Homo sapiens: one gene and its partners. The protein of the gene in region 1 purifies or fractionates together with the protein of each later gene. This does not show direct contact. Each region holds a gene or a part of one and is shown on either strand. Other genes may lie near its edges.

Region 1 (3,655 bases):
ATCAAGAAGAAAAAAGTAGCTGTTGGTTAGTTGGCTGAACTCACAGGTATGAGCTTAACACGAAGGATTCAAGCTCTGGCTCTTCTCTTCGCCAAGTATATGATCTTGGGCATGTTACTAAACTGTCTAAGCCCCCATTTCCTCATCTGGCAAATGGGGCTCAGATATGTTCCTACATCATAGCTTTGTCGTGAGGATTAAATAAGATGTCTGTGAATTAGCAAGACACCTAGCCCATCCGTAGTAGGGGATCCTTAAGTGATGGCAGGAATGGAGAGGTAGGAACAGATCCACCAAGTAAAGGGTAAAGCCAAGATCAAACACAAATCCAGCCAGGTGTGGCTCCTTCTGCCTTTTCACTGCCACTAAGAGAGGGGTAGCATTCAATGAGCAGATGGCAGTGGCTCAGAGTGCAGATCAGTGCAAAGGTCTTTCTCGTCTTCTCTGCAAAGAAGGAGGGATGGCATATGTGTATCTTTGGTCATTTCCAGGTGACTCTATCCAAAGTCCATGCAGGCAAGTAGACGCTGTGAGCAGGATGGAATATACAGATCCAAACCTCTAGAGCAGAGCTAGGGCCAGGCATGACTTGATCAACATCTAAATGCCACCAACACCCAAGGGCCACACAGAGGGAAGAGACCGGGGACCACATCTTGGCACTTTCAGATGGGTTTGCAAGCACTGGAAATCAAAGCTTCACCAGGGATGCTTTAAAGATGAAAATCCCAGCCGGGCGCAGTGGCTCACGCCTGTAATCCCAGCACTTTGGGAGGCCAAGGCAGGCAGATCACGAGGTCAGGAGATTGAGACCATCCTGGCTAACACAGTGAAACCCCATCTCTACTAAAAAAAAAAAATACAAAAAATTAACCGGGCATGGTGGCAGGCGCAGTCCCAGCTACTGAGGCTGAGGCAGGAGAATGGCGTGAACCCAGGAGGTGGAGCTTGCAGTGAACCGAGATCGCACCACTGCACTCTGGCCTGGGGGACAGAGCGAGACTCTGTGTCAAAAAAAAGAAAATCCCAGTAAGGATTTAAGGGAAGATGCTGGGAGTAGCATGTGGTCCCCGAGTAGGAAGATGGAAGTACAGCAGAGGCAAGAATGGCAGTCACTGTTTGTAGATATTTTTCACAGGGAAGGTCAGAACATGTCCCAGGGAAACCATGTCCAAGGTTCAAGATGAGAATGACCTGATCCTATATATATATATACTTTTTTTTTGAGATGGAGTTTTGCTCTTATTGCCCAGGCTGGAGTGCAATGGCACGATCTCGGCTCATTGCCACATCCACCTCCTGGGTTTAAGTGATTCTCCTGCCTCAGCTTCCCGAGTAGCTGGGATTACAGGCATGTGCCACCACACCCGGCTAATTTTTTTGTATTTAGTAGAGACGAAGTTTCACCATGTTACTCAGGCTGGTCTCGAACTTCTGACCTCAGATGATCCACCCACCTTGGCCACCCAAAGTGCTGGGATTACAGGCGTGTGCCACTGCACCCAGCCCCAGCCAAGATTGTTTTTTAAGAATCAAAACTTGACTACGGGCTGGACACGGTGTCTCATGCCTGTAATCCTAGCATTTTGGGAGGCCAAGGCAGATGGATCACTTGAGGTCAGGAGTTTGAGACCAGCCTGGCCAACATGGTGAAACCCTGTCTCTACTAAAAATCAAAAAAAAAAAAAAAAAAAAACCAAAAAGAATTAGCCAGGTGTTGCGGTGCATGCCTGTAATCCCAGCTACTCGAGAGGCTGAGACAGAAGAATCACTTGAAACCAGGATGCAGAGGTTGTGGTGAGCTGAGATCATGCCACTGCACTCTAGCCTGGGTGACAAAGTGATATGTCTCGAACAAAAACAAAAACAAACAGAAAAAAACCTGAGATCCCTGATCCACAAAAGCCTGAAATATGATGTCAAATTGTATTTATATGTGCAAGGGGGCATTTTTCTTGAAGGAAGGTCCATAGCAGGAGAGACAAACCGTGGCATGGCTTTGTTTTGTTGGGTCCATACAGCATTATGAATATTTGAATGATTTCCCAACATTTAAAAATTGGATACTAGTACATAAAAATCTAAACGTTGGGCTTCTCTTGAAAAGACTCAGAAGAGCCAGTCACATGGGACCCACATTCCAGAAAGGGGTGGCCTCCTTTAGATGGGGTCTGGGACCTCAGTCAGCTACACAGTCCATAGCACTTTTGTGACCTCCTCAGTGGATGTCCAATGTTGGTCCTCTTTTATCAGCGCCCTTGCACTGTTTTCTTCACTGCTTTATTTTTTTAATTTGCCTTGTCCCTCTGGCTTTTTCATTTGCAACCCGTGATTTGAACTTTTAATAGATGCTCAAAGGGTGGCTGATTTTAAGAAGATCATTGAAACCGAGATCTTTTTTCCAGCTTAAACTCTTTCCCAACAATCCAGTGTTGAAACTGACCCTTAGTAGAGGCGGAACACCACCCTTCCCAGGCCCAGAAACAGATTCTTTTCCTCCTAAGGAATGCGTGTATGTTGTTTGTCCAAGCGCATGTTTACAAATGGCAAGCTTATCTTCTGATGTTATAAAACACCAAAAGCTATTTAGAAATTACTGAAACTCCTATCTATAGTTTCTGCAAGATACTGCTCAGGTGATAATGCAATCAATGAAAGCAATGACAATCTGGGAAATCCTTTCTTTATAACCTTGAGAATGTGGCTTTGAATGGAGACAAATCAAACAGATAGAACTCTTGCTCAGGCCCCTTTTCTGAAGCCAGAGCCAACAAGCCTAGTGATTTTCTTTTGAAAGGGTCTTAAGTAGGTCTTTGCATTTGGGAAGATCAGGCAAGTCACTTAGAGCCGATTTCTGAACTGAGACTCACAGAAGCACATACTCACACCCTCCTATCTGGAGACATGTGGACCTGGAGGGCTGGAGGAACTCAGATGCCTTGGTCCTTAGGAGGATCCAGAACCACCGCACTGAGGCCTAGCAGGCAAGGGCAGGACACACAAAATGTGAGAGCAGAGGAATGAAGGAAAATTAAATCTTGGGCGAGGCATTCTGTCCAGCAAAGAACAGGAGGTGAATACATGGCACGTGGGCCTTCGATATCCTATGAGTGGAATGAAGGCAATGCTTAAAACACTGCACCACTGCACAGCTCCACCTGTACACAAGATGCCCCTTTGTTTTGGGGCAGCCAACTGCTGCATCTCCTGTTTATATGTGCACCCAAGCAGAGGAAGTCAGTCCAAAGCTAGAAGGAGGGAAAATGATTGCCCAGAAGCTCAATGGAAGCCTTGCTTAATATCTCAGTGGTTGAGAACACAGATATTAGGCTGAGGCCCACTCGGTTTGAGGCCTGGCAATGCCATAGGTCAGTTAATTTATCTTATCTGTGAAATGGGATAATCATAGAAGCTATCTCATCCCAAGGGCAGGTGGGTGGATGAAATGAGATGATCTTGGTGCGGAGCTTAGCACGGTGCCTTGGTAAGCCTGGATAAGCATGAGCCGCTCTCTTAGGTGGGTTTCCCAGTTGCTGACCTGATCATCTAATTGCAGTGCAAGTAGTTGATATGGAAAGGGTTCCTGGTCCCATGAGGAAGGGAGTGAGGATGTGAGACCGGGAAGGGAAGGTGGCCTTGAGCAGTTACTGCCATG
Region 2 (3,655 bases), on another chromosome or scaffold:
GATACAGCAATGAAAAAAAGTCCCTGTTCTCATTAAGCTGTTATTCTAATGGTAAAGAAACACTGTAAAATGTCAGATGGTGATAAGTAGGGTAAAGGGATAGAGAGTCATGGGAGGGTACTGTTTTAGTAATCAGAGAATATTATTCTGAGGAAAGGCCAATTGAGTAGACTTGACATAAAGTGAAGGAATGAGCCAAGTGAGTTTTTAACCTAGTAGCTATCCATGAGAATAATTGTCCAGGTCTCATCCACTAGAGTCATGACTTTAATTGGTTTGGGATGACATTGTCCATGTTTCTTTCTTTTTTTTTTTAAGTCCCCAAGTGATTCTGATATGTAACGATGCATTATAGCCACTGAAAAAGATATATCTCTAAAATAGAGACAAGTTAACTGTTTTACCAGTGCTTATTAAGAATATCATTTCCAAGTATTTAATATACATTTCTGGTTCTTCATTGTGTTAAATTCTTGGAATGTATCAAAATTCCCAAGCAGTGAGATCTACGGAAGAGAATAAGCCACTGCTAGACATAATGCTTCTAACTTCTTGGACAGGCCTACCACTATATTATACAAGGTGTAAGACCTTTACCTTCTTCAAGTCTATCATCAGCAGAAGCCCAAACTGCCTCCTTTCCTTCACATTGGATAAGTCTGCTTGAGCAGAGAAGTAAGAGTGAGGAAAAGGGAGGATTTTCTTCTCCCTGCTCTCACAGAGGTTCATAAAAGTATCATGGACAGGAAGATTAATATATTCTGCCCAAACTGAGATATTAAAGCATTCTGTATGCTCACATCATGACCAAACTTCTTAGAAATTACATATGCGTAATAAAGTTCTTTCAGTCTTTCTGTAAAGGCAGTAGAAAATTTGGAGTTCCAAAGAGGGTACTGTGACTTATACCCAAAGCTATAAATGTCATGTAAAATCACAACTCACTCTGGTAGCTGGAAACAGTTATCAAACAGAGTTTAGAATTAATTTACCAATTACTGTCTAGCATCCCTTTTCATCCTAAAAGATAGCAGAGTAATACCAAGGCATATGGTAGACCAAAGATATTTGCTGAATGAATGTATCAAAGAATGCTTTAGAAAGGATCGACAGAAAACCAGTAATTCTCATATACTATTAACAATGTATTACTTAACATGTTTTCAAAATGCAAAAATAAAGTAAATTCTTCAGGAAAACTGAGTTAAATTCTGATTTACCTTTTTTGCTCTTTCAGAAATGGTTGGTGCTCTCTGCAATGTTTTTTCTTGAAGAAATTCTTTATTCTGGAGAGGAAAAGTAAGTATTTTGTTCTTACAAGTTTTTAAGGTACCAAAAAAAACCCACAAAAAAGTTCACCATAATCAAAATGTGATATAGTAACTGTTCTGTAATGAAGTGTGAGAAAAACTTTCATTCTTTCACTCTGAAGCTCCTTTAGTATGTTACTACCACAGTTTCATAAATTGAGGCAGAAAATTAAGATGTAGTACACTGTATGAACCACTGTCTATGAAGAGTTTGCTGTACTGTATGTTCTTTGAGATCATGGTCCTACATTTCCAACTACAGTAACATCCTACTATCTGATATATTTGGGAAATGAGATGTTTACAAATTCAGTAGTAAACCTTAAAACCAGAGTTCGGTATTTTTCACAAATTATATTTATAATGGCAAAATTTAATAATCATTGTTCCTATGATCAGTTTAACCTAATATTTAAAAACGGATTTACTAAATTCTGAAGCAATTATCTTAATTATCAAAGACTGTATACATAGTGCTTTCTGCAATTATTTTATCTACCATCATTTTTCCAAACATAATCATCCAACTTCTAAGCACTGAACATAATCTGAGTAATTGAGGAGCATCCTATGAACACACATAATCAAAAGCTGGAATTTCCTACCTTTGCTTTCTGGAAAAATTTGTGCCTTAATAGTTCTGCTGCTGTTGGTCTAAAACCAGGAAGGGAGGGAAGAAAAGTTTTTATAATTAATTCAAGTGTAATGTCAGATTCCATCATCAAAAATGAGAAAAAATTTTTTTCAACAGCAAAATAAAAACTCAGTATACTCTACTTTCCTTAAACTGCTAAAAAGCAAAAGTAAAATAAACTTGATACAGGACATTGAATAAAATAAAAAACTCAAAACAAATATTCTGATAATTATTGTAGATTCTTTGAAAAAATCATTAGTGAAATGTTTTTTCTGGAAGCATGATTTCTTAATAGAGTCTAATATATTTGCTATTTAATAATATTAATTTAATATTTAATATTATTTCCCAATAAGTAAGCTAGAAAATATCTATCTAACATTTTTAGCAAGGCATAAAAATATATTTAAACACACAAAGAGGAAATGGACCAAATCAAGACCTCCACTTCTTGCCACATGGTAGCCTGCCAGCCTTCAATTTAGGTAACCACAGATCCCTAAAAACAGATTTCACAATCTCCCTTTAAAAATGAAAATTCTAAAAGTATATTCCCCAAATTTAACAAAACTCAGTGTTTAACTCATTTCTTCATGGTCTTATTTCCTTTTAAGTAAAGACACGACTGTCAATTTTACAAGCTTTTAAAAGAGTATCATTCAGAATAAAGAATTTAACATTTAAGAGACTGGACCTGATTTTGCCACACACCTACCTGATCCTGAGCAAATCACAACCTCTCTAAGGTTCAGTATTACTTGGCCAAGCCCCTAAGTTCTTAAACACTGCTGTGCATTGAACTATCTGGGAAGAATGTAAAAATCCCAATGACCAGAGGGCACCATGGCTCATGCTTGTAATCCCAGAACTTTGGGAGGCCAAAGTGGGTGGATCACGATATCAGGAGTTCAAGACCAGCCTGGCCAATATGGTGACACCCAGTCTCTGCTAAAAAAACCACAAAAATTAGCAGGGCATGGTGGCGTGCGCCTGTAGTCCCAGCTACTTGGGAGGCTGAGGCAGGAGAATTGCTTGAACCCATGAGGCGGAGGTTGCAGTGAGCCAAGATTGTGCCACTGTACTCCAGCCTGGGCGACAAAGCAAGACTGTCTCAAAAACAAACAAACGAACAAACAAAACCAATGACCAGGCTGTACCTCAAACCAATTAAAGCAGAATCTTTAATTGGCTTTAGTAATGTTTAAAACTCCCCAGGTAATTCCAATAGGCATTCAAGTTTAAGAACCAGCACCTCAGATGATTATTATAAAGATTAAAAAGCTGAATAAATGTGAAAGTGCTATGCAAACTGAAATCCTACATTATCACTCTTATTTTTTCATATGCTCAACAATTGCTTCTCAATATGCTCAACAATGTGATTGCTCAACATTGCTTCTTATTATTCATTCCTTTCTTCTGACTTCATTTCCTTCTTTCTAAAGTACAACTTATGGGTTCTTTAAGTGACAGAACGTGACTGGAAAACTCAATTTCTGTGTGCAAAATAATTTCATGCTCATTCTTGAATGATAGTCTGACTAGCTGGAGAACTCTGGGTTAAAGTCACAGTCATGAGCCTCTTAATGCTTTGGCCAACAATATACTGTGTATCTGACAGTAGTCAGAGCAACAGGCTACACTAAATAGCCTAGGCATGCAGTAGGCTGTACCATCAAAGTTTGTGTAAGTACACTCCACGATGTTC
Region 3 (3,655 bases), on another chromosome or scaffold:
GGATTTCTACACCCAACACCCCACCACCTCAGTCCCCTGGGTCTTATCCTTCCAAGGTTCTCTGTAACAACATGCTCAGTACTATATCAAAGCTTACATGCAATAAATACCCAATGATGAGGATCATTGATCCCATTACCTTTGTAGGCACCTTAACGTCCTTCTGAAGGATGGAAAGATCTGTGTAATAATCTTTGATGTCTTCTCTGAGCATTTCAACACTTATAGACATGGCTTCATCTAGAGCCTCATAATCATAAGACGAAGATTTCCTTATTCTCTTAAACTGCTTATTCTGAAGCTGTTTGAGGTAGTACTCCCAGCGATTGGGAAAATCACGTAAAAGTGCACCAATTAAAGATACTACAAGGGGAGAGCCTTTAAAAAAAAAATGAAGTCACTATGCTAATACCATCCTATTTTGTCACTAATAAGAATCGACTTACTTACTTACATTACTAAGAAACAATTTCTGCTGCATGTTATCAAAAGCCTTAAGTATTTATCACTCTTGACTTCACTTCTAGATATTTATCCCAAAAAAAATTAGAAATAAGAAAGATTTCATTCAGTAAGTTCCTGATTATCTTTATTAAGTCAAAATAACATAGATCAAATCTGGCTAAGATGTCATTACAAAAAAAAAAAAAAATATATATATATATATATATATATGCGCCAGTCTAAGCAATATAATGAGACCTTGTCTCTACTAAAAATAAAAATTAGAAAAATCAGCCAGGTGTGGTGGTGTGTGCCTATAGTGCCGGCTACTTAGGAGGCTGAGGTGGGAGGATTGCTTCAGCCCAGGAGGTTGAGGCTACGGTGAGCCATGACAGCACCACTGCATCCTAGCCTGAGGAACAGTGTGAGACTCTGTCTTAAAGAAAAAGAAAAGAATGATTAAGTTTAAGGATATTCATCACAGCACACTTAGAATAGTGAAAAAATCTTAAACAACGTAAACAATGTCCAATAATACAGAAGTGGTTGAATAAATTAAGATATATCAATATTATGCCACTGGTAAATTTTTTTCAAAAAAATATTTAACAACATGGGAAAATGCTCAAGATATAGAAAAAGGGTAAGATCCAGCTGGGTGTGGCGACATGTGTCTGTAGTCCTAGCACTTCAGGAGGCTGAGGTGGGAGGATTGCTTGAGGGCAGAAGTTTGAGACCTGCCTGGGCAACATAGTGAGACCCTGTCCCTACAAAAAAATTTAAAAATTACCCAGGTGTGGTGGTGGGTATCTGCAGTCCCAGCTATTCAGGAGGCTGGGGCAGGAGGATTGCTTAAGCCAAGACATTCAAGCCTGCAGTGAGCTGTGATCTTACTGCACTCCAGCCTGGGTGACAGAGCAAGACCCTGGCTCTTTAAAAAAAAAAGGGCAAAATCCAAAACCACATATACATAATCTCAACTTTTTAAATCTTTGTTCTAAAAGACTGGAGGCAATACTCTCATGATGCTAATAATTATCAGGTTATGGATAATTTCTATTTTTTTTTTAGTTTCACACATTTTCAAAATGGACATGCATCACCCTTTGTAATAACTACAAATTAAGCATTTTTTCTAAGTGTAAGATTTCTTTAAAAATTAACAAAACTGGCCACGTGTGGTGGCTCACGCCTGTAATCCCAGCACTTTGGGTGGCTGAGGCAGGTGGATCACGAGGTCAGGAGTTCAAGACTACCCTGGCCAAGATGATGAAACCCCATCTCTACTAAAACTACAAAAATTAGCTGGGTGAGGTAGCACGCACCTGTAATCCCAGCTACTAGGGGGCTGAGGCAGGAGGATCACTTGAACCTGGGCAGCAGAGGTTGCAGTGAGCAGAGGTCGCACCACTGCACTCCAGCCTGGGCGACAGAGTGAGACTCGTCTCAAAAAATAAATAAAATAAATAAATAAATAAATAAACAAACAAAACTGTGTGTCTATTTGATGGCAGAATGAAAAATAAGGTGGCCAGGTATGGTAGCTCATGCCTATAATCCCAGCACTTTGGGAGGCTGAGGCGGGCAATCACCTGAGGTCAGGAGTTCGAGACCAGCCTGACCAACATGGCGAAACCCCGTCTCTACTGAAAATACAAAAATTAGCTAGGCATGGTGGAACATGCCTGTAGTCCCAGATACTCGAGAGGCTGAGGCAGAAGAACTGCTTGAACCTGGGAGGCAGAAGTTGCAGTGAGCCGAGATCACGCCACTGCACTCCAGCCTGGACGACAGAGTGAGACTTGTCTCAAAAGAGAAAAAAAAAGAAAAAGAAGAAAAATAAGGTATTTCCAAGCATAACAATAATGAAAGAAATAATTTTAAGAGTTGATAGATTTGACTGTTTAAAATTTTAAGCTTCTATATGTCAAAAGAATACAACAAATAAAAGGTACACAAAAAACTGGGTAACAGGCTGGACATGGTGACTCATGCCTGTAGTCCCAGTGCTTTAGGAGGCTAAGGCAGGAGGATCATTTGAGGCAAGTAGTTCAAGACCAGCCTGGGCAACACAGCGAGATTCTATATATAAATTTTAAGTTAAAAAATTGTTTTACTGGGAAATAATACTTGTAAAAATATGACAAAGAGCTAATAGTTTCTATTTTTTGAGTATTTAGAAATAAATTAAAAATACTTATATCAAAAAAGAAAAGTGAGTCAAGGATAATTTCTTAAAGTCAAGGATAACTTCTTAAAACGTATTCAATAAACAAGTAAAAAGTTTAACTTCGCTAAAAAAAAATGCAAATTAAGACACCAGTTTTTACTTACCAAATTAGAACACTATTTTTATAAAATCCCAAGCAAAAACAAGTTTTAAAATCTGATTCTCACTCTATTTTTAACTCTAACAGCAGAGGTCACATCTGTGTCTCACTTCTCTCACTAATGTGGTCTCTAACACACTGTGGGTAGATGGTAAATATTATTTTAATGAATAAATAAATACCATAATATCATGTATCCATTTAAGATATCAGAGAACCTAAAATACTAAATCTCCCAGAAAAGTTTTTGGATGTTCATGTGCTAAATTACCATATTCATTAGCTCAATTAACAAAAGGGAAATTATATAACTCCCTATAATCTCCTCATAAACAAATAAATAACCATACCTTTACATTCTTTTATAATACTATGAGCTTGTTCTGGCAAATCTGCCTTCTTCATATTAACAAAAAGGGATAAAATTTCAAGTCCTTTTTCCTTTCCTAAGGAACTCTCCACAGGGACTACATATTTAGGACCTGCAAACAAAAATCACAAGACAAAGTAAGTAATTTGGTATGTCACATATTTAAATGTAATTAAATTAAATATAAAGGTACTAAAAAGTAAACGAATAATCCTTACCCATTACTGAATCTGTAACACTCTTGTCTCTGGTTGTAAGAAGAATCTGACACTGACTGTCAAAAGCTTTCAACACCCAAGAGTCCCAAACATCATCCAAGATCAAGAGAGACCTAATTTAAAAAAAAAATATTAATCACTAATGACACTTATCTTAAGCTTCCTTTTAAAAAGATAATCCCACCAGTGTCTTTTAAAATCTACCAAATTAAATTTTTTTTAAAACAAATAGATGGCTAGATCTAGGAAAATGATTCTTCCTCTTTGCTATACTCTTCTCAATATGCTGATTC

The links.
Region 2: the proteins of BANF2 (region 1) and OXSR1 purify together in Homo sapiens (affinity purification with mass spectrometry; one large-scale study listed by BioGRID and IntAct). This does not show direct contact.
Region 3: the proteins of BANF2 (region 1) and APAF1 purify together in Homo sapiens (affinity purification with mass spectrometry; one large-scale study listed by BioGRID and IntAct). This does not show direct contact.

The regions. Positions count from the first base shown.
Region 1 is NC_000020.11:17,706,372-17,710,026, forward strand, and holds part of BANF2 (barrier-to-autointegration factor-like protein), read left to right. Parts: intron 1-3,655. UniProt on the Homo sapiens protein: May play a role in BANF1 regulation and influence tissue-specific roles of BANF1.
Region 2 is NC_000003.12:38,227,996-38,231,650, reverse strand, and holds part of OXSR1 (serine/threonine-protein kinase OSR1), read right to left. Parts: intron 1,965-3,655; coding exon 1,916-1,964; intron 1,287-1,915; coding exon 1,221-1,286; intron 1-1,220. UniProt on the Homo sapiens protein: Effector serine/threonine-protein kinase component of the WNK-SPAK/OSR1 kinase cascade, which is involved in various processes, such as ion transport, response to hypertonic stress and blood pressure.
Region 3 is NC_000012.12:98,662,276-98,665,930, reverse strand, and holds part of APAF1 (apoptotic protease-activating factor 1), read right to left. Parts: intron 3,476-3,655; coding exon 3,363-3,475; intron 3,257-3,362; coding exon 3,125-3,256; intron 881-3,124; coding exon of another isoform or gene 852-880; exon of another isoform or gene 573-851; intron 379-572; coding exon 140-378; intron 1-139. UniProt on the Homo sapiens protein: Oligomeric Apaf-1 mediates the cytochrome c-dependent autocatalytic activation of pro-caspase-9 (Apaf-3), leading to the activation of caspase-3 and apoptosis. This activation requires ATP. Isoform 6 is less effective in inducing apoptosis.